2 separate regions of the Homo sapiens genome follow, and region 1 is linked to region 2. Evidence: fine-mapped QTL for protein levels in blood plasma. A gene starts in region 2. The other region holds a variant in brackets. All regions are shown on one strand. Distances are between the middles of the regions.

Region 1 (12,020 bases), 32 kb after region 2:
TTTTTTTTGAGATGGAGTTTCGCTCTTGTTGCCCAGGCTGGAGTGCAATGGCGTGATCTCGGCTCACCGCAACCTCCGCCTCCCTGGCTCAAGCAATTCTCCTGCTTCAGTCTCCTGAGTAGCTGGGATTACAAGCATGCACCATCACGCCCGGCTAAAATTTTTTGTATTTTCAGTAGAGACAAGGTTTCTCTATGTTGGTCAGGCTGGTCTTGAACTCCCGACCTCAAGTGATCTGCCTGCCTCCACCTCCAAAAGTGCTGGGATTACAGGCGTGAGCTTGATAAGGAATAGCAACAAAAAATTTGTACTAAATTATCATTACTACATTTTGAATTTCATCAATTAAAAATTGTGAAATTTTATTTTCTTTCCTGCTATTAAATATCTACATAATATCTTCCATTTTTCTCTCTTGGTCCACATAAGCTAAAATATTTACTCTCTGGCCCTTTATTTTAAAAATTTGCCAATCCTTGTTCCAAAAGAGACTCGTTTTAAACATAACCAACTTACATTATCACACCTTACACAGTTGATACTTTCTTAGTATCATCCAATGCCAAGGAGATTTTTTTCCTTTTTGAGACAAGGTCTTACTCTGTCACCCAGGTTACAGTACAGTGAGCATTGCACAAACAATGCTTAAGGCAGTTTCTACCTCCTGGGTTTCAGCCATCCTCCCACCTCAGCCTCCTGAGTAGCTGGGACCACAGGCATGTGCCACCACGCCCAGCCATTTTTTTTTTTTTTTCAGTAGAGCTAGGACTCTACCATGTTGCCTAGGCTGGTCCAGGAGATACTTTAATGTCTCCAGTGGAACATAAGCCTGAAAAGACTTGGGGATTGATTTACTCAATCTTAGGTACTAAGGAGGGGCATGGAGGGAACATAGCAGCTACTAACAGAAACAAAAATCTCCTTTCTCCTGGCATCTTGATATTAATCCCAGGGAGGAACTCTAATTGGTCCAGTTTGAACTGGGCCCACCCCTTGAATCTATCATTGTTGCCAGAGAGAAAACACTGATCTTGTTGACTTGGCCTGGGTCATTTCTCCGCCTCAGTGGGTGGGTGGAGTTGGAGAACTACGATTGACAGTTTCACCAGAACTATAAGAAATAAGGCAGCATCTCCCCCAAAAGAAATGGGGTTCTGCCGGAAGGTGGAGGTTGCAGTGAGCTGAGGTCGCACCACTGAACTCCAGCCTGGGTGACAGAGTGAGACTCTGTCTCAAAAAAAAAAAAAAAAAAAAAAAAAAAAAAAAAAGAAAGAAAGAAAGAAATAAGGAGGAAGAGAATCCAGGAAGTATGAAACAATGGGCCATCAGAACCCATGGGCTGAGTCAGGAGGTACGAGGGTCACAGTGTTCAGAATCCCTCAGGGAAAGGCATAGCTGGCAAGATTATCAGATGCCAGTTCTCAGGTGTGATCATAAGGTGGAAGATGAGTCATTTAACAAAGGTTCAGGACATAGGTCTGAGGACGATGGAGGTATGGGGCTGGGTGTCTGGATGACACTTAGCAACAGGTGCCAGGACTAAATGCAAAGGGCACAGGGGGCCTGGATATGGGCCTCTCTCTGACATGGGGGTATGCATCATTAATAGGCTGAGGGCGATCCAAGTCTGTTTTGAACCAAATGAGACTCAGAGGGTACATGTGGATGTAACAAGGAAATTTCCTTCTCAGAGTATGGATTTGTGCAGTAGTGATACCATAGGCCTTTGAATCCCAATGTTCAAATTCTGGCTTTTTTTTTTTTTTTTTTCCTGAGATGGAGTCTTGCCCTGTCACCCAGGCTGGAGTGCAGTGGTGCAACCTCGGCTCACTGCAACCTCTGCTTACTGGCTTAAGTGATTCTCCTGTCTCAGCCTCCTGAGTAGCTGGGAGTATAGGCACATGCCACCACATCCGACTAATTTTTTGTATTTTTAGTAGAGATGGGGTTTCACCATGTTTGCCAGGCTGGTCTCGAACTCCTGACCTCAAGTGATCCATCCACTTCGGCCTCCCAAAGTGTTGGGATTACAGGCTTTAGCCACCACGCCTGGCTGAATTCTGACACTTCTGACTCCTCAGCTCTGTGACTTTGCTCAAGTGATCTAGCCTTTTTTAAACCTCCATTTTCTCATCTATAAAATGGGGATGATGGGGCAGGCGGCAAAAAATAAAGGTAAAATGGGGATGACAATCCTCACCTGGACCAATGTGAGGAATACAGACACACCACACTAAATGTAGGGGGGAAAATGGGAGCTGCTTCTTCATTCCGTGGGTGATGGGCTGAGGGAACTCATGTTAATTCACTGGCTGTTATGTGCCCATCAATTTTCCATTCATAATTTTATTTAATCCTCTCATTTGCCTCGGTAAATAGGTTTTGCTCTCCTCCACTTTGGGGAGGGGCAAAGTCTGACTCAGAAAAATGAAGTCACTTACCCGAAGTCACAGGGTGGGCAACCAGGATTCAAAGCTGGGTTGAAAGTCCAAGTTCTTTCTAGTTCTTTCTGTCACACTGCATGGTGGAACAGCTCAGGGATCAAGGCAGGACTGAATCTAAGGCCTGTGGACCTGTGGATGCCAGAAGTTTGCAGACTAGTATTTATTTAAGTACCTCCTGTGTTCTCCGGTCTGGGCGGGGTGCTGGAAAAAAAAAAAGAACCCCACACACATTTCCTCTGCTTGTGATGACCAGTGTTTGGCAACAAAATCAGGTTAAATAATTAGGAATATAATTTACAGAATGATAGATGATGAAAAGCAGAGGATAGACGTTTTGGTGACTTAGGAGTGAATAACAGGGCTCTAGAGTAGCCTGGCTCCTTCCTCTTTCTAACAGATACTAAGGAGGCAGAGGACTGAGGGAGGAGAGAATCTAAGGATGAAGATGCAGGGAGTAGATAATACACTGGAAGTCTTGCTACCATTTCTGTCTTTGAGAAGCCAGGAAGGAAAGATACAGATTGCTGAATCATGGAGCTGTGAGGTCAACTGGGCTGGAGTCTGCTTCTCCTTGATTTGGGAGCCCAGGTCAGGAATGTTGACACCCTTCACGACCAGATTGCTGCTGTGGAATGGGCAGGGCTAGATGTCCAAGTTCGGGGATCTGATTTTGGATTCGATGACAGTAAATGTCTCAGAAGATTTTGGGACTCGGCTTGAGTTGAGTTAGTATAGCATCAATGTTAGCAAGATATTCGTTGGCAGACTTTATTTTAGAGTTTTTGTAAAATGAAGAGTCAAAGTTGTGTGGTGAGCTGGAGAAATAAAAATGGAACTGGGAAAAGAATTGGGGATGGAAATGAGAATGGGATTTTAGGTAGCAATTGGGTTGAGGATGAGAATAGGGGTGGGATGGGGTGAGAGTGTTAGAATTGGTGTTGGATGTGAGGGAATGGGTTCATGGGGGAGGATATGAATGTGGGCTTCCTAGAATATGATGGGAATGGAGACTAATGTCTGAATTATCCCGTGGCAGGCTTGATACTCAGGCTATGGTGACATTCACTGCTCAGGTCAAGGTTGAGTTTGGCTTATGGCTAATGGTTCAGGGTTAAGGTCAAGGGTCAGGAGGGTTAAGTTTGATTGAGGTCTGGATCCTAGCCTGAGTTGATATTTGGAGTCAAGAACTCAGTCAAGATTTAGGTTATTGGTTGAGATACAAATTGGGGTTCATCAAGGATAAAGCAGAATTTGAGGTTCAGGATTGGGTACAGATTAAGGTTTGGGGTTAAGACTGGGGCTTACTAAAGAGTCAAAAAAACAATAGATGTTGGCATGGATGTGATGAAAAGGGAACACTTATACACTGCTGGTGGGAATGTAAAGTAGTACAACCTCTGTGGAAAACAGTATGGTGATTTCTCAAAGAACTAAAAGTAGATCTACAATTCAATCCAGCAATCCCACTACTGGGTATCTACCCAAAGGAAAAGAAGTCACTATATCAAAAAGACACATACACACGTATGTTTATCGCAGTACAATTCACAATTGCAAAGATATGGAACCAAAGTAAGTGCCCATCAACTGATGAGTGGATAAAGAAAATGTGATGTGTATGCACCACGGAATACTACTCAACCATAGAAAGAATCAAATAATGTCTTTTGAAGCAACTTGGATGGAGTTGGAAGCCATTATTCTAAGTGAAGTAACTCAGGAATGGAAAACCAAATGCCTTACGTTCTCATGTGTAAGTGGGAGCTAAGCAGTGGGTACCAAGTGGTATAATGGACACTGGAGACTCAGAAGGGGGAGGGTATGAAGAGGATAAGGGATAAAACACTATAAATATTGGGTACAATATACACTACTTGGGTGATGGGTGCACTAAAATCTCAGACTTCACTGCTATACGATACATCCATGTAACCAAAAGCCACTTGTACCCCGAAAGCTATTGAAACAAACAAAAAGGCTGGGGCTTATGTCAAAATACGTGTTGGGAGTTGTGTCAAAGTAAAGGTTGGATTTAGGGTTCTGCTTGAAGTCAGGGTCTGAGGTCTTTTCTTGTCATATCAGAACCATTTGACCACATCTACCATGTCTTCTCAATGAATGGCATCACTGTCCATCGAGCAACAGACTTTGAAATCTTAACATCTTCCACTACCTCAACACAACCTTCATTCAATCCATCACCAAGGCTTGTTGATTCTCTCTCCTAAGTGCATTTTGAACCCATGTACTTAACATCGTCTCCACCTTTCAACCACCTGTATCCAAGTCACCATCTTCCCTCATCTAGACAACAACAATGACTTCCCCCATGGTTGCCCAGTATCTTCACATCCCACCCAAATCCAGCCTTCATACAGTAGCTAGGTTGATGTTTTGAAAATACAAATCTTGTTATGTTATTTCTCTGACTAAGGTTCAAATAGTTCTTCATTATCCACAGGATAAAGCAAGACTCACAATGACATACAGAGCTCGTCATTATCTGGTCCCAGTTAACCTCTGGCCTCCGAGCTCCAGCAATAATGCCTTGGGCCTTTGCACATGCTCTTTTCTCTACACAACACACTCCCCATTCTCCTCCCATTTTCTTCTAGTTACCAGAAGAAATTTTCTTCTAGTTACCAGAAGAAATTTTCTTCTAGTTTACTATTTCTAGTTACTAGAAGATTTCTTCTAGTCTACTTCTAGTTCCTAGAAGATTTCTTCTAGTTTAATATTCTTTCAAATCTCAGCTCATAGTCAATTCCTGGGTCTAACCCCTCTGGAAGTGCCTTCATAATACCCTGCACCTGTCTTTCAGAGCATGCCTTGTAGTTGTAATTTTACACTTGTTTATGAATTGACTGTATTTCTTTTACATGACACTATCAGCTCCTTGAGGGAAGAGACACTATCTAGGTTTGCACACCATTGTATCCTCATTGGTAGATAGCTACCACCCAATCCATATTTGTTAAATATATAAAGGATTGGTGTTAAACTATTGCATAAACAATCAACAACTTTTCCCTAAAAAATAAGAAATCCACTGTATAGAAGAAAAACTAAGAAAAAATTAAATTTAGATGAGAGGTAGTCAGCTATAGGATCCAAATTACTAATTTGTTTTTTTAAAAAAGACTATTCTAAAAATTAAATTGGTCATCTTCACATTAACAATGGCCAAAATGGGATATGGGCTGAAATGGGATATGGGGATGAGGGTTGGGAAGAGAGCTAAGACTGGAGGCATGGTTGAGTTTGTTGATTTATGTGGCTTCAAGATATGGAATCAAGTTAGAATCGGATTTGGATTTGTGGCTTGGGATCAGATTTGGGATCTGAGTCAATATTCTGATTGAACATTGAGGTCTTATAAAGATGATTTTGGCTACAAGGACCAAGCAACTCTAACCCAGAAGGGGAATCTGAAAAATCATGACATGAAGAGGCTCCATCGTTGGTTAATTCACCAGCTCAGTGACTTCATCAAAGACCCAGCTGATCCTCACCTCTCTGGTGGGCTACCTGCAGTGTTTTGACTTAGTCCTCTGGTCACTTCCCTCTGTGGTCCCTGGGGTGCTGCCACAGTTCCAGAATTTGCATCCAGAAAAGACACCATCTAGCAGAAGAAAAAAGTCCCCTTTCAGTGCCTCTTTTTGAAAATGAGAAAGTCTTTCCTAGAAGTGCCTCAGTGGTCTTCCCCTCCTCCTCATTGGCCAGAAGAACAGCACATGTCCATTTTCCAACTAATTAAGCAAACGAAATATGGCTTCAATGCTTGGTTCATTGAGGCTTATAGTCCTGATGAGGATAAAGTATTATCCAAACAAAATGGAGCCTCTGATAGAAAGGCAGAAGGAGTGAATGCCTGGGGACACAACAATAATGTCTACTATTATGGGTCAAATGTAGAATCGAGTTGGGGTGCCAGGCGTGGTGGCTCACACATGTAATCCCAGCACTTTGGGAGGCTGAGGAAGGCAGATCACCTGAGGTCGGGAGTTAGGGACCAGCCTGACCTACATGGAGAAACCCCATCTCTACTAAAAAAAAAAAAAAAAAAAATTAGCCAAGTGTGATGGTACATGCCTGTAATCCCAGCTACTCGGGAGGCTGAGTCAGGAGAATTGCTTGAACCTGGAAGGCGGAGATTGCAGTGAGCTGAGATCGCACCACTGCACTCCAGCCTGGGCAATAAGATCAAAACTCCATCTCAAAAACAAAAACAAAACAAAACAAAGCAAAAAAAAGAATTGAGTTGGGGTCAGGATTGAGATAAGTTTTAGGTCCAGGGTGGAGAAATAAATCCCATTTTGGGGATATAATTTAGAGGTTGAGGTCAATTCCAACTTTAGAAGTGTGTCCAACAATGGTTCCTGTCTTACTCAAAATAAAAGCCAAAGACCTTTCAGACCGCATGTCATCAGAGTCCTGTTATATTTCTGGCCTCATCACCTGCCCTCATCTCCTTTGGTCACTCTGTATTGGTCGCAGTGATTTGTCTGCTGAGGCACTTCAGATATGCTCCTTGGCTAACACACCTGCCTGCTCGCTTTGCCTGGAACTCACTACCTTCAAGCAGCCACCTGGATCCCTCCACCATCTCCTTCAAGACTTTGCTCAAATATCACCTTCACGTGGGGTCTTTGCAGCCAACCTTCCTGATATTATAACCTCAGGGATCCTCGAGGGTAGAGGGAATCAGTAACTCCCCAACCCTCTTCCTTGCTTGGATTTTCCCTTATAGCGCTTACAACCACCTAACAAACTCTACATTTTATTTGCTTATTTTTGTGCTGACCTGACAGTACAAAACAAAAACCTCTATGAAGACAGAAATTTTTCTCTGTTTTATCACTGCTGTGTCTCCAAGAGCCTGAATAGTTTCTGGCACAGAGTAGATGCTCAATGGATGCTGTTTGAATGACTACAATGAACAAAGATGAATGTACAAAGAAGTTCATCTCAGCATTATTATAATTAAAACTATCCAAGTGTATTTCAATTTGAGGCAGATGACATGCATCATGATACAAGTATAGTATGGAATATTACACAACCATTATAAAGGAAGGAAAAGTAATCTAAATGTACAAAGAGGGAAAAGTTTTCCTCTTTTTAAAAAATAAATGTTATTGTGTATATTTAAAGTGTACAATATGATCATATGCGATGTATATACATAGGACAATGATTACTATAGCTGAACAAATGAACATGTCCATCATCTCACATAGTTACCCATTTTCCTCCCCTGTGGCAAGAGCAGCTATAATCTACTCATTTAGCAAAAATCCTTGGCTGGGCGCGGTGGCTCAGGCCTATAATCGCAGTACTTTGGGAGGCCGAGGCCGGTGGATCACCTGAGGTCAGGAGTTGGAGAGCAGCCTGACCAACATGGTGAAACCCCATCTCTACTAAAAATACAAAAATTAGTTGGGCATGGTGGTGCACGCCTGTAATCCAGCTACTCAGGACTCTGAGGCAGGAGAATCACTTGAACACGGGGGAGTGGAGGTTGCAGTGAGCCGAGATCGTGCCATTGCACTCCAGCCTGGGTGACAGAGCCAGAGTCCATCAAAAAAAAAAAAAAA[T/AAT]AAGAAAGATTCTTCTCTCCTCTATGTGTCCATGCAGTCTCATCATTTAGCTACCACTTGTAAGTAGGAACATGCCATATCTGGTTTTCTGTTCCTGCTTTAGTTTGTAAGGGTAATGGCCTCCAGCTCCATTCACGTCCCTACAAAGGACATGATCGTGTTCTTTTTTATGGCTACGTAGTATTCAATTGTGTATACGTACCACATTTTCTTAATCCAGTCTATCACTGATGGACATTTAGGTTGATTCCCTGTGTTTGCTGTTGTCAATAGTTCTACAATGAACGTACGTGTCCATGTGTCTTTAAACAGAATGATTTATATTCCTTTGGGTACACACACTGGGGCTTATGAGAGGGTGGAGAGTGGGAGGAAGGAGAGGATCAGAAAAAAATAACTAATGGGTACTAGGCTTAATACCTGGGTGATTAAATAATCTGTATAACAAACCCCCATGGCGCACGTTCACCTACGCAACAAACCTGCACATCCTGCACATGTACCCCCGAACTGAAAAGTTAAAAAAAGAAAAATAAATATTTGCTTATAAATTAATAAATGAAGCCCTCAAAAATGTTCTATTAGATAATGTTAAGTACAGACATTTTTGTTATAAATACATAATATACAAAGAAATCTATGTATAACATGATTAAAATGACCATAAGAACATAGATCCTAAACATGGCAAATATTAGTGGGGTGGGGTTAGGGAAAGCGTTGTTTTTAACTTACACCTCTCTGTTAGAGTTGGGAATGGGTTCAGGCGTAATTACAGGCACGACTGGGATCAGCTTGGACAAGTTCCCCCAGGCGGGCCAGAATTAGGATGTAGGGTCTAGGCCACCCCTGAGAGGGGGTGAGGGCAAGAAAATGGCCCCAGAAGCCGGGCGCAGTGGCTCACGCCTGTAATCCCAGCACTTTGCGGGGCCGAGGCGGGCACATCATGAGGTCAGGAGATCGAGACCATTCTGGCCAACATAGTGAAACCCGGTCTCTACTAAAAATACAAAAATTAGCTGGGAGTGGTGGTGCGTGCCTGTAATCCCAGGTACTCGGGAGGCTGAGGCAGGAGAATCACTTGAACCTGGGAGGCGGAGCTGGCAGTGAGCCGAGATCGCGCCACCGCACTCCAGCCTGGCGATAGAGAGAGACTCCATCCAAAAAAAAGAAAGGAAGGGAGGGAGGGAGGAGGGAAGAAAGAAAGAAAACCGCCCCAGAGAAGGACCCGAGCCAGAGCCTATTCTCTGAGCTCAGCGACTGCTTGAATCCCGCTCCTGCCCCTCAGACCCAGCGCACCGGGTCCCTCCCCCGAGAGCAGCCAGGAGGGACTGTGGGACCAGAATGTGCGGGGGCGCAGGAGCTGGGCACCGCCCGTCCTTCGGAGGGAGGGTGGAGAGAGAGTGCAGTGGTGCCAATTGCTCTCGCTGCGTCAGGGTTCCAGATAACCAGAACCGCAAATGCAGGCGGGGGTGTCCCAGAGTCGGCTCCGCCTGCACCCCAGGGCGCTGGGGCCGGGCATGGGGCGGGGGGTGATATAAGAGGACGGCCCAGCAGAGGGATGAAGATTTTGGAGCCCAGCTGTGTGCCAGCCCAAGTCGGAACTTGGATCACATCAGATCCTCTCGAGGTGAGAAGAGGCTTCATCAAGGGTGCACCTGTAGGGGAGAGGGTGATGCTGGCTCCAAGCCTGACTCTGCTCTCGAGAGGTAGGGGCTGCAGCCTAGACTCCCGGTCCTGAGCAGTGAGGGCCTGGAAGTCTGCAATTTGGGGCCTTTTAGGGAAAAACGAACTACAGAGTCAGAAGTTTGGGTTCCACAGGGAAGGGCAAGATCGGAGCCTAGATTCCTGGGTCTCTAGGGATCTGAAGAACAGGAATTTTGGGTCTGAGGGAGGAGGGGCTGGGGTTCTGGACTCCTGGGTCTGAGGGAGGAGGGCCTGGGGGCCTGGACTCCTGGGTCTGAGGGAGGAGGGGCTGGGGGTCTCGACTCCTGGGTCTGAGGGAGGAGGGGCTGGGGGCCTGGACTCCTGGGTCTGAGGGAGGAGGGGCTGGGACCTGGACTCCTAGGTCTGAGGGAGGAGGAGCTGGGGCCTGGACTCCTGGGTCTGAGGGAGGAGGGGCTGGGGCCTGGACTCCTGGGTCTGAGGGAGGAGGGGCTGGGGCCTGGACTCCTGGGTCTGAGGGAGGAGGGGCTGGGGCCTGGACTCCTGGGTCTGAGGGAGGAGGGGCTGGGGCCTGGACTCCTGGGTCTGAGGGAGGAGGGGCTGGGGCCTGGACTCCTGGGCCTGAGGGAGGAGGGACTGAGACCTGGACTCCTAGGTCTGAGGGAGGAGGGACTGGGACCTGGACTCCTGGGTCTGAGGGAGGAGGAGCTGGGGGCCTGGACTCCTGGGTCTGAGGGAGGAGGGGCTGGGGCCTGGACTCCTGGGTCTGAGGGAGGAGGGGTTGGGGCCTGGACTCCTGAGCCTGAGGGAGGAGGGACTTGGACCTGGACTCCTAGGTCTGAGGGAGGAGGAGCTGGGGGCCTGGACTCCTAGGTCTGAGGGAGGCGGGGCTGGGGGCCTGGACTCCTGGGTCTGAGGGAGGAGGGGTTGGGGCCTGGACTCCTGAGCCTGAGGGAGGAGGGACTTGGACCTGGACTCCTAGGTCTGAGGGAGGAGGAGCTGGGGGCCTGGACTCCTAGGTCTGAGGGAGGAGGGGCTGGGGGCCTGGACTCCTGGGTCTGAGGGAGGAAGGTGCTAGGGTCTGGACTCTTGGGTATGAGGGAGGAGGAGGTTAGGGGTCTGGACTTCTGAGTGTAAGGAAGGAGAGGCCAGAGAAAGGAATTTCTGGGTCTGAGGGAGGAGGGGCTGGGGTTCTGGACCCCTAGGTCTGAGGGAGGAGGGGCTGGGGCCTGGACCCCTGGGTCTGAGGGAGGAGGGGCTGGGGCCTGGACTCCTGGGTCTGTGGGGGGAGGGGCTGGGGCCTGGACCCCTGGGTCTGAGTGGGGAGGGGCTGGGCCTGAATGCTTTCTCCTTCTCAGCTCCAGCAGGAGAGGCCCTTCCTCGCCTGGCAGCCCCTGAGCGGCTCAGCAGGGCACCATGGCAAGATCCCTTCTCCTGCCCCTGCAGATCTTACTGCTATCCTTAGCCTTGGAAACTGCAGGAGAAGAAGGTGAAAGCTGGACTGGGAAGTCTGACCTCACCTCAGGGCCCCCACTGACCCTCTCCAAGGAGTCCCTGAGTCAGAACCCTTCCCTCCTCAAACAGCTTCCATCCTGGGAGGACCAGACTGTCGGCTGAAGCCCCCGCTCTTCCTGCTTCTGCTGACTCAGGGGGTCTCTGTCCCCTCCAGGCCCTGCCTCCTGTGCTCAGGGTCTCTCTGTGGTTCCCCAGATGAGATGCGCCTCCTGGGTTTCTGAGTGGGCTCCTTCTGTCTGTCTCTATCCCTATCTCTTGCTTTCTCTGTATTTCTCCACACATTTTCATCTGTCTCTGTCCATCTCTGACTCTGGGAATCCCTGAGGTGCAGCCTCAGCCTTCCCCTAATGCTAGCTACCCACGTGCTCCTCCATGTCTCCATCCAGCCCAGGGTGACAAGATTATTGATGGCGCCCCATGTGCAAGAGGCTCCCACCCATGGCAGGTGGCCCTGCTCAGTGGCAATCAGCTCCACTGCGGAGGCGTCCTGGTCAATGAGCGCTGGGTGCTCACTGCCGCCCACTGCAAGATGAAGTAGGTGCCGCCCAAGTCTCTGCTGGAGGTGCACCAGCGTCTCCAGCTCGCTATGGGGGTGGAAGGGCAGTCTTTCTGTGCCTACGGCTCTATTCTCCTCTCTCTGGGTCTCTGTCCTCCTCTCTCTGGGCCTCTGTACCCCCTCTCCCTGGGGCTCTGTCCCCCTCTCTCCCTGGCTCTCTGTCTCCCTCTCTCTGGGTCTCTGTCCCCCTCTCTCTGGATCTCTGTTCCCCTCTCTCTGTGTCTCTGTCCCCCATTCTCTCTA
Region 2 (9,123 bases):
CATCCATAACCTCCTGGTTGTAAGACCTTAGGCAAGCAGCTTCACCTCTCTGAATCTTGATTTTCTTCTCTATAAAATGAGAATGATTATACCCACCTGTCAGGATTGGATTAGAGATAATGTATATCAAGCAACTGACATAAATCATTTATTGGATAGCAGGCTGGGCACCGTGGCTCACGCCTGTAATCCCAGCACTTTGGGAGGCCGAGGTGGGAAGATCACCTGAGGTCAGGACTTTGATACCAGCCTGGCCAACGTGGTGAAATCCCATCTCTACTAAAAATGTGAAAATTAGTTGGGCGTGGTTGTGTGCGCCTGTAATCCCAGCTACTCGGGAGGTTGAGGCAGGAGAATCGCTTAAACTTGGGAGACGGAGGTTGCAGTGAGCCAAGATCACGCCACTGCACTCCAGCCTGGGCAACAGAGCAAGACTCTGTCTCGAAAAAAAAAAAAAAAAAGCTGGATAGCATTGCTGTTGCTATTGTTACAAGAAGAGAGGTGAGTTGGCTGCGTCTAAGGACAGGGATTCCCCCAGGGGCGGGATCACAGCAAGCACTGCATTAGGGGAGGTGGCAGGGGGCTCATTCCCACAGCCCCTCACGCTGTTTCCACAGTACGCCTGCCTCACACCTTGCGATGCGCCAACATCACCATCATTGAGCACCAGAAGTGTGAGAACGCCTACCCCGGCAACATCACAGACACCATGGTGTGTGCCAGCGTGCAGGAAGGGGGCAAGGACTCCTGCCAGGTCAGTGTGGTCTCCAACCACAGCCCCATCCCCATCCCCAGCTTCAATGACATCTTTACCGACATCCACAATTTCATCCCCAACCTCAACCCGCCGACCCCTGCAACTCCCAATCCATCTCTTCCCCTGTTCCCGTTTCTGACCTCAGCACAAACTTCAGCTCCATCCCCGTTTCCACACCATTTCCAGCTCCAACCATCCCCAAACTCGTTTTTGAGCCTAACCCCATCCTTTATCCCACCCATAATCCCAGCTTTATCGCTAAACCTATCACCTTTCCCAGTGCCTACCCATCCTGTCTCGGCCCCACTCCTAAGCACCGTCCCCACCTCCTCCCTGGCTAACACCATGCTCAACGCTTTCTCTGACCGACATTCTCTCTCCCCGTGCCCAGGGTGACTCCGGGGGCCCTCTGGTCTGTAACCAGTCTCTTCAAGGCATTATCTCCTGGGGCCAGGATCCGTGTGCGATCACCCGAAAGCCTGGTGTCTACACGAAAGTCTGCAAATATGTGGACTGGATCCAGGAGACGATGAAGAACAATTAGACTGGACCCACCCACCACAGCCCATCACCCTCCATTTCCACTTGGTGTTTGGTTCCTGTTCACTCTGTTAATAAGAAACCCTAAGCCAAGACCCTCTACGAACATTCTTTGGGCCTCCTGGACTACAGGAGATGCTGTCACTTAATAATCAACCTGGGGTTCGAAATCAGTGAGACCTGGATTCAAATTCTGCCTTGAAATATTGTGACTCTGGGAATGACAACACCTGGTTTGTTCTCTGTTGTATCCCCAGCCCCAAAGACAGCTCCTGGCCATATATCAAGGTTTCAATAAATATTTGCTAAATGAGTGAATCTACTGAGTGCTTACTATGTGCTAGACCCTGATCCAATGGCTTTTATTTTATTTTATTTTTTGACAGAGTCTCGCTCTGTCACCCAGGCTGGAGTACAGTGGTGCTATCTCTGCTCACTGCAACCTCCACCTCCTGGGTTCAAGCAATTCTCCTGCCTCAGCCTCCTGAATAGCTGGGATTACAGGTGCCTACCACCACATCCGGCTAATTTTTGTATTTTTTAGTAGAGATGGGGCTTCACCATGTTGGCCAGGCTGGTCTCGAACTCCTGACCTCAGATGATCTGCCCTCCTTGGCCTCCCAAACTCCTGGGATTACAGACGTGAGCCACCGCGCCCGCCCGGCTTTCATTTATTAATTAAAAGAAATTAAATTAATTAATCTATTTAGGAGACAGTCTTGCTCTGTTGCCCAGGCTGGAGTGCAGTAACAATCACAGCTCACGGCAATCTCAATTTCCTGGGGTCAAGTGATTGTCCTCCCTCAGCCTCCAGAGTAGCTGGGACTACAGGCACATGCCACGAAGCCCAGCTAATTTTTGTATTTTTCGTAGAGACAGAGGTCTCAGTATGTTGCCCCGGCTAGTCTCAAACTCCTGGGCTCAAGCAGTCTGTCCTCCTCAGCCTCCAAAAGTGGTGAGATTACAGGCATGAGTCGCTGTGCCTGGCCTCCAAGCACTTTCAAATGTATCAACTTAATCCTCACAAAACCCTGTGAGGTCGGTACTGTTTTCATACCTATTTTATAGTTGAAGAAACAGACACAGAGAAGCAAAGTCACTTGCTCACAGTCACGTGGCTAGGAGAGCAAGGATCTGAAGCAAGGCGATCTCTTAATTACCAAGTGATGTTCCTGGAGTAAGGCTCTGTTTGTTTCCTTTCCTGTAAAATGCTGCATGCAAAAGTATAACACAGTAAGTAAAGAAGTCAGTTAGCCTGCACATACTAAGACCTAACCAAAGGAGCTTATTGTTTTTCTCCAACTTCCATGATAGGTAATTAGATAGTGGAGACCTCTGCTGGCCAATATGGTAGCCACTAACCGCAGCTGGCTCTTCCAATTAAAATTACATAAAGCCAGAAATGTAACTCCTCTGTCTCACTTGTTATATCTCCAAGGCTGGATAGCCACATGTGACTGGTGGTGGCTGGATTAGCTAGTGCATATAAAACATCACTGCAGAAAGTTCAGCTGAGCAGCACTGAGTTAGATGGCCTCTGAAGAGGATGTCCCACGGAGAGAATCCAGAACTCAGGATCTTTTTTTTTTTTTTTCTTTGCGACAGAGTCTTGCTCTGTCACCCAGGCTGGAGTGCAGTGGCGTGATCTCGGCTCACTGCAACTTCTGCCTCCCAGGTTCAAGCAATTCTCCTGCCTCAGCCTCCCTAGTAGCTGGGACTACAGGCCTGTGCCAACATCCCCAGCTAATTTTTGTGTCTTTTTAGTAGAGATGGGGTTTCACTATGTTGGCCAGGCTGGTCTCGAACTCCTGACCTCGTGATCCGCCCCCCCTTGGCCTCCCAAAGTGCTGGGATTACAGGCGTGAGCCACCGCGCCCGGCCAGCTCAGGATCTTTTGGGATGGTCTGTTCACCTCGCAGAAGTGGCTGGCATGAGCAATAGGAGCCCAGAGTGGAACCAGGGCCTTCTGGTTGTCAAGTGGACTTGCTGTGTGACCTCCTGTGAGTCTCTGCCCTCTCTGAGCCTCTCACTCCTCACCTGAGATGAGGGAGTTGGCTGAGGTGATGCCGATGCCCCTCACAGCTTTGACCTCCTATGATTCAGGGGCCTGTGTGTCACCTGGTGGCACACAGATGGCAGGGAGGGTGTGAGATGGCCACACATGGGTATGAGGCAGAGCCACAGCCCCCCCCAACACGCACATGGGCTAGTCACTGGGACACACACAGAGCTCACTCACGGCCACAGAGTGGGCGTGGGTTTCCCTTTTTCCTTGTTTCTGTTTCTCTTAGCCTCGGCGCCTCCCTCCCTCCCTCTCTCTCTCTCTCTCTCTCTCTCTCTCTCTCTCTCTGGCTCTTTTAGCCTTGGTTTGTTACAATCTCCCTTTTCAAGCCAGCCTCTGTCCCTCCTACTCAACCTGCTTTATCTCTAGGCCTTCCTCCTTCCTCTTCCACAGTCTGGCTTCTCACATTGTCACTCTAGGTATGCACTTCCCATTGATTTCCTCTTGCTCAGTGGCCTCTCATCCTGCCACCCCTAGCCTTGCTGGGGACGTGAACCCTCTCCCCGCGCCTGGGAAGCCTTCTTGGCACCGGGACCCGGAGAATCCCCACGGAAGCCAGTTCCAAAAGGGATGAAAAGGGGGCGTTTCGGGCACTGGGAGAAGCCTGTATTCCAGGGCCCCTCCCAGAGCAGGAATCTGGGACCCAGGAGTGCCAGCCTCACCCACGGTACAATTAGACAGAGGGAAAGGGAGGGAGCCCGGGGGTGGGGGTAGGGGAGGGTGGAGAAGCTTCCGGACTCCTTGGGGTTAAAAGGGAAGGTCCCGCCAGGGGTCCCTGGGCAGAGGATACCAGCGGCAGACCACAGGCAGGGCAGAGGCACGTCTGGGTCCCCTCCCTCCTTCCTATCGGCGACTCCCAGGTGAAGCTACCTGCACCCCACCCGGGTTGGGGTGGATTGCGAGAGGATGGGTGGGGACCCCCGGGCCACAGGCAGGAGCCGGCTTAGAGCCTCGGTTTCTCCACCTGCGGGACGCGGAAGTCCCCCCGCTGTGAGGTTGAGAAAGAGGCTCCCACTGGCTCCGAGCCTCGGATCCCCACCCCGCGCGTGAAGGAGGGGGAAACCTCGGGCGCGGCGTGGCTGCAGCCAGGGTAGCTGGGGCGCGGAGAGCGCTCCACTCGGGCACAGGGAGGACGGGAAGATGCCGCGAGGGGCGTCATTAGGGTAATTGTGCCCATTACCGCTGTTCCAGCCCGAATCTCCCGTCTGCCAGCCCCTGGGGTTATCGGCTGCAGGTCAAAAGGGTGCTTGCGGGCTGGGGTGGCCCAGGCTGGGCGGATGAGCGCGGCGAGGTGGGGGTCTCTAACGGAGCATCTGTTTTAACCCGCCCCTGCACACACCCCAGCAGATCCTGGCCATGAGAGCTCCGCACCTCCACCTCTCCGCCGCCTCTGGCGCCCGGGCTCTGGCGAAGCTGCTGCCGCTGCTGATGGCGCAACTCTGGGGTAAGGTCGGGGGCAGGGGGCGGGGAGAGGCGCCGGTGGGAGGCACGGGCGGGAGGAGAATGTGTTCCCGTCACCAAGCCCCGCGCACCTCTCCTCCCCCGAGACCCCAGCACCCACCCAGCGCTCCGGAGCACGGCCCGCCCCCAAGTCAGCTGGGCCCTTCTTCTGGCTCGGCCCCTGGGTGACCCGCCCCACTCAGGCCCTGTCCGATTTCTGCCACCCGGATCCTCGCTCTTCCGTGGACTCTTCGCCGCGTTCTTTCTCCTCCTCTTACGCCGCCCCATCCCGGCCCCGCTCCATTTTACACTACCGTGTTTTGTTTTGTTTGTTTGTTTGTTTGAGACGGAGTCTCGCTCTGTCGCCCAGGCTGGAGTGCAGTGACGCGATCTCGGCTCACTGCAAGCTCCGCCTCCCGGGTTCACACCATTCTCCTGCCTCAGCCTCCCGAGTAGCTGGGACTACAGGCGCCCGCCACCAAGCCCGGCTAGTTTTTTGTATTTTTAGTAGAGATGGGATTTCACCGTGGTCTCGATCTCCTGGCCTCGTGATCCGCCTGCCTCGGCCTCCCAAAGTGCTGGGATTACAAGCGTGAGCCACCGCTCCCGGCCACACCACCGTGTTTTATCCTGAGTCTTGCCTTACCGCTTTTTGCCCTCTCCCCTCACTTTTTTTCTTCCTCTTTCCCTTTCTCTCTCTTTTTTCTTTTTCTTTCTTTCTTTTCTTTCTTTCGTTCTTCTTTTCCTTCCTTCCTTTCCTTCCTTCCTTTCGTTTGTTTCTTCTTTCTTGTTTTACTTTCTCTCTTATTTTTTCTTCTTTCTTTCTTGTTTTTTTCTTTCTCTCTCTTTTTCTTTCCTTCTTTTTTTTTTTTTTTTTTTTTTGAGACAGGGCAGTGCTCTGTCTCCGTGGCTGGAGTACAGTGGCCCAATCAGAGCTCACTGCAGCCTCGACCTCCTGGGCTCAAGCGATACTCAGCCTCCAGAGTAGCTGGTACCACAGGCATGCACCACCACATCCGGCTTTTTTTTTTTTTTTTTTTTTTTTTGAGACAGGGTCTCACTCTGTCGCCCAGACTGGAGTGCAGTGGCCCAATCTCGGCTCATTGCAACCTCCACCTCCTGGGCTCAAGCGATCCTCCCACCTCAGCCTCCCAGGTAGCTGTGACTACAGGCGCATGCCTCCGCGACTACTTTTTTGTTGTTGTTGTTGTTGTTTGTTTGTTTTTGTAGAGACTGGGTCTTGCTGTGTTGCCCGGGCTGGTCTTGAATTCCCGAGCTCAAGCGGTCCAACCGCCTCGGCTTCCCAAAGTGCTGGGATTACAGGCGTAAACCACTGCGCCCCACCCCTCTCCTGGTTTTCAATCCCGTTTTGTTATTCACACCCCTTCCTCTCCCCGATCCCCGAGTTCTATCCCCGCACCCTTACCTCCCCGCCGCGTTCAATCCCCGCCCCTCTATCGACCAGCGACGTTCTAGCCAGCTCTCCAGGCGCGCTGCGTTCAGTCCCTGCCCTCCAGACCCACCCTATTCTGTCTCATTACTCCACGCTACCCTATCCCAGCTTCCTTCCACTTTCACGCGCTTCTTCTCCTCCCATTCCCTTCGGTGCACGCGAAACCCCCAATATTTCCCTACCACCCTCGCGTTCTGGCTGCGTCCCCCGTCCCCGAACGCAGTCCAGTGCCACAGCCCAGCTCCAACCCCAAACCCAGACCCTGCCCTCCGTGCTTTGATTCCGTCCCCTTTCTTTCTCCAGCCGCAGAGGCGGCGCTGCTCCCCCAAAACGACACGCGCTTGGACCCCGAAGCCTATGGCTCCCCGTGCGCGCGCGGCTCGCAGCCCTGGCAGGTCTCGCTCTTCAACGGCCTCTCGTTCCACTGCGCGGGTGTCCTGGTGGACCAGAGTTGGGTGCTGACGGCCGCGCACTGCGGAAACAAGTAGGAGGAGATCCATCCCCGAGGACGCCACGGGGGGCTGTGGAGGCGGCCTCCAGGGAGGAGCGGGCAGGGCGGGGTCTCTCGGAACTCCCACAGCTGGAGGTGCGGTCCCCGGTGTCCTTCCAGCAGGAGGAGAGACCGGGCTTGCGCTGTGGCCGCCAGGGGGCGGTGTGGTCCTTTTCCGCATTTCTGGGCCCGTCACTCCTCTCCCGCTGATTCTCCTTGAGCTCTAGGAGGAGGTGGTTGCCTGCAACGGATAGAAGCCAGGGTCCGGTGTGGTCAGGAATTTAGAACTAAAGGAAAAGGTTCACTTCGTGAGTCCCCGTTGAAGGAGGAAGGGTTGGGTATTACCACAGAGAAAATGTGGAGTTGGGCTGGGCTCGGTGGCTCACGCCTGTAATCCCAGCACTTTGGGAGGCCAAGGCGGGTGGATCACCTGAGGTCAGGAGTTCAAGACCAGCCTGGCCAACATGGTGAAACCACTTCTCAACTAAAAATAAAATAAAATAAAAAATAAAAAATTTTAAAAAAATTAAAAAAAAAAAAAGGCTGGGTGTGGTGGTGGGTGCCTGTAATCCCAGCTACTCAGGAAGGAGGCTGAGGCAGGAGAACTGCTTGAACCTGGGAGGTGGAGGTTGCAGTGAGCCGAGATTGCGCCATTGCATTCTAGCCTGGGTGACAAGAGCGAAACTCTGTTTCAACAAAGAAAAGAAAAAGAGAAAAGAAAATGTGGAAGGCTTACCTAGGTGTCCAGGCCCCCAGCCCTCCTCAATTCCTACAGATCCTCAGAGCTCAAACAACTGATTCCTCCTCCCCATGTCCACTGAGGTCCCCTTCTCCCACAAGGCCCTCTTCCCTCAGACTCTTCCTATCTCCAGGCCCTGCGTCACTGCCCACCTGCTTTCCCAGTCCCTATGAAGGGTTTGCCTTCACATGCCTCTTCCTTCCCCCAGGCCACTGTGGGCTCGAGTAGGGGATGACCACCTGCTGCTTCTTCAGGGAGAGCAGCTCCGCCGGACCACTCGCTCTGTTGTCCATCCCAAGTACCACCAGGGCTCAGGCCCCATCCTGCCAAGGCGAACGGATGAGCACGATCTCATGTTGCTGAAGCTGGCCAGGCCCGTAGTGCTGGGGCCCCGCGTCCGGGCCCTGCAGCTTCCCTACCGCTGTGCTCAGCCCGGAGACCAGTGCCAGGTTGCTGGCTGGGGCACCACGGCCGCCCGGAGAGGCAAGAGCTGGGGCTCTGAGGCCGGAACCTCAGGAGGAGGGGGCTGAGGGCCTGAACCCCTGGGTCTGAGGAAGGATGGGCTGGGGACTGGATTCCTGGATCTGAGGGAGGACGGGCTGGGGTCCTAGATGCCTGGGTCTGTGAGTCTGAGGGGAGGAGGGGCTGGGGGCCTGGACTCCTGGGTCTAAGTGGGGAGGGGCTGGGGCCAGGATTCTTGAGTCTGAAGGAGGAGGGGCTGGGGCTTAGGATAGAAACGGTCTTGTATCTGGACTCCTGGCTCCCCAAGGATTGGGGGCTGGACCCAGGGATTACTGGCATATTCTCCCTTCAGTGAAGTACAACAAGGGCCTGACCTGCTCCAGCATCACTATCCTGAGCCCTAAAGAGTGTGAGGTCTTCTACCCTGGCGTGGTCACCAACAACATGATATGTGCTGGACTGGACCGGGGCCAGGACCCTTGCCAGGTAGGGTCTGAACAGGGAGAGTCTCTGACTCCTGGGAGGGAGGACAGGGAGGTTATGGGAAAAGAGCAGACCCTGTGCCCGATCCCCAACTCCATTCCCAAACCCATCCTTGACCCCAACTCTTACCCAGACCTAACCCCCTCCTCATCCCTATCCTCAATCCCATTTCCATCCCAACCCCACCCCATTCCCATCTCCAAGCCCATTTTCATCCCCTCACCTTCCATGAACTACAATCCCAACCCCAGTCTCACTGTGCCTTCATTCTCATCCCCCAGCCCAACCTCCCATAACCTGAAGTCCACCTCCATTCCTACCTTCCAGCTCATACCTAATTCCAACCCCATCCCATCCTCGTCTTTATCCCAACCCAACTCCTTCCTTCCCCACCACTGCCCCAGATCCCAAAGTGACAGCTCTCACGTTGGCACATTTATTTGATCTCTCCTTCCTGCCACCCCCAGAGTGACTCTGGAGGCCCCCTGGTCTGTGACGAGACCCTCCAAGGCATCCTCTCGTGGGGTGTTTACCCCTGTGGCTCTGCCCAGCATCCAGCTGTCTACACCCAGATCTGCAAATACATGTCCTGGATCAATAAAGTCATACGCTCCAACTGATCCAGATGCTACGCTCCAGCTGATCCAGATGTTATGCTCCTGCTGATCCAGATGCCCAGAGGCTCCATCGTCCATCC

Direction of the effects. Positions count from the first base shown, and alleles are read on the strand shown. Strength reflects both the effect of a copy and how common the allele is.
For the plasma level of the protein whose gene starts at base 4,137 in region 2, T is the low allele of the variant in region 1 and AAT is the other (weak association).

What was found. PIP is the posterior inclusion probability: the model's chance that the variant is causal. Protein levels are from antibody-based Olink assays in UK Biobank. Linkage for the fine-mapping came from a reference panel and not from the study's own genotypes, which makes the PIPs less certain.
Region 1: its variant is fine-mapped to the plasma level of the KLK10 protein (UK Biobank, PIP above 0.99).

Annotation. Positions count from the first base shown.
Region 1 is chr19:50,981,502-50,993,521 of GRCh38, reverse strand. KLK7 (kallikrein related peptidase 7) reads left to right here and starts at 9,605. Exons shown (of 6, transcript NM_005046.4): 1 at 9,605-9,671; 2 at 11,065-11,195; 3 at 11,608-11,755. The coding sequence starts at 11,123. RefSeq lists a silencer at 2,863-3,063 and an enhancer at 9,316-9,870. The variant T/AAT (reference allele first, on the strand shown) is at 8,042.
Region 2 is chr19:51,014,723-51,023,845 of GRCh38, reverse strand. It overlaps KLK10 (kallikrein related peptidase 10), which reads left to right and starts at 4,137. Exons shown (of 6, transcript NM_145888.3): 1 at 4,137-4,219; 2 at 4,707-4,803; 3 at 6,556-6,736; 4 at 7,690-7,964; 5 at 8,296-8,429; 6 at 8,894-9,123. The coding sequence starts at 4,716. The coding sequence ends at 9,046. It overlaps KLK11 (kallikrein related peptidase 11), which reads left to right. Exons shown (of 6, transcript NM_001136032.3): 5 at 618-754; 6 at 1,149-1,610. The coding sequence ends at 1,301.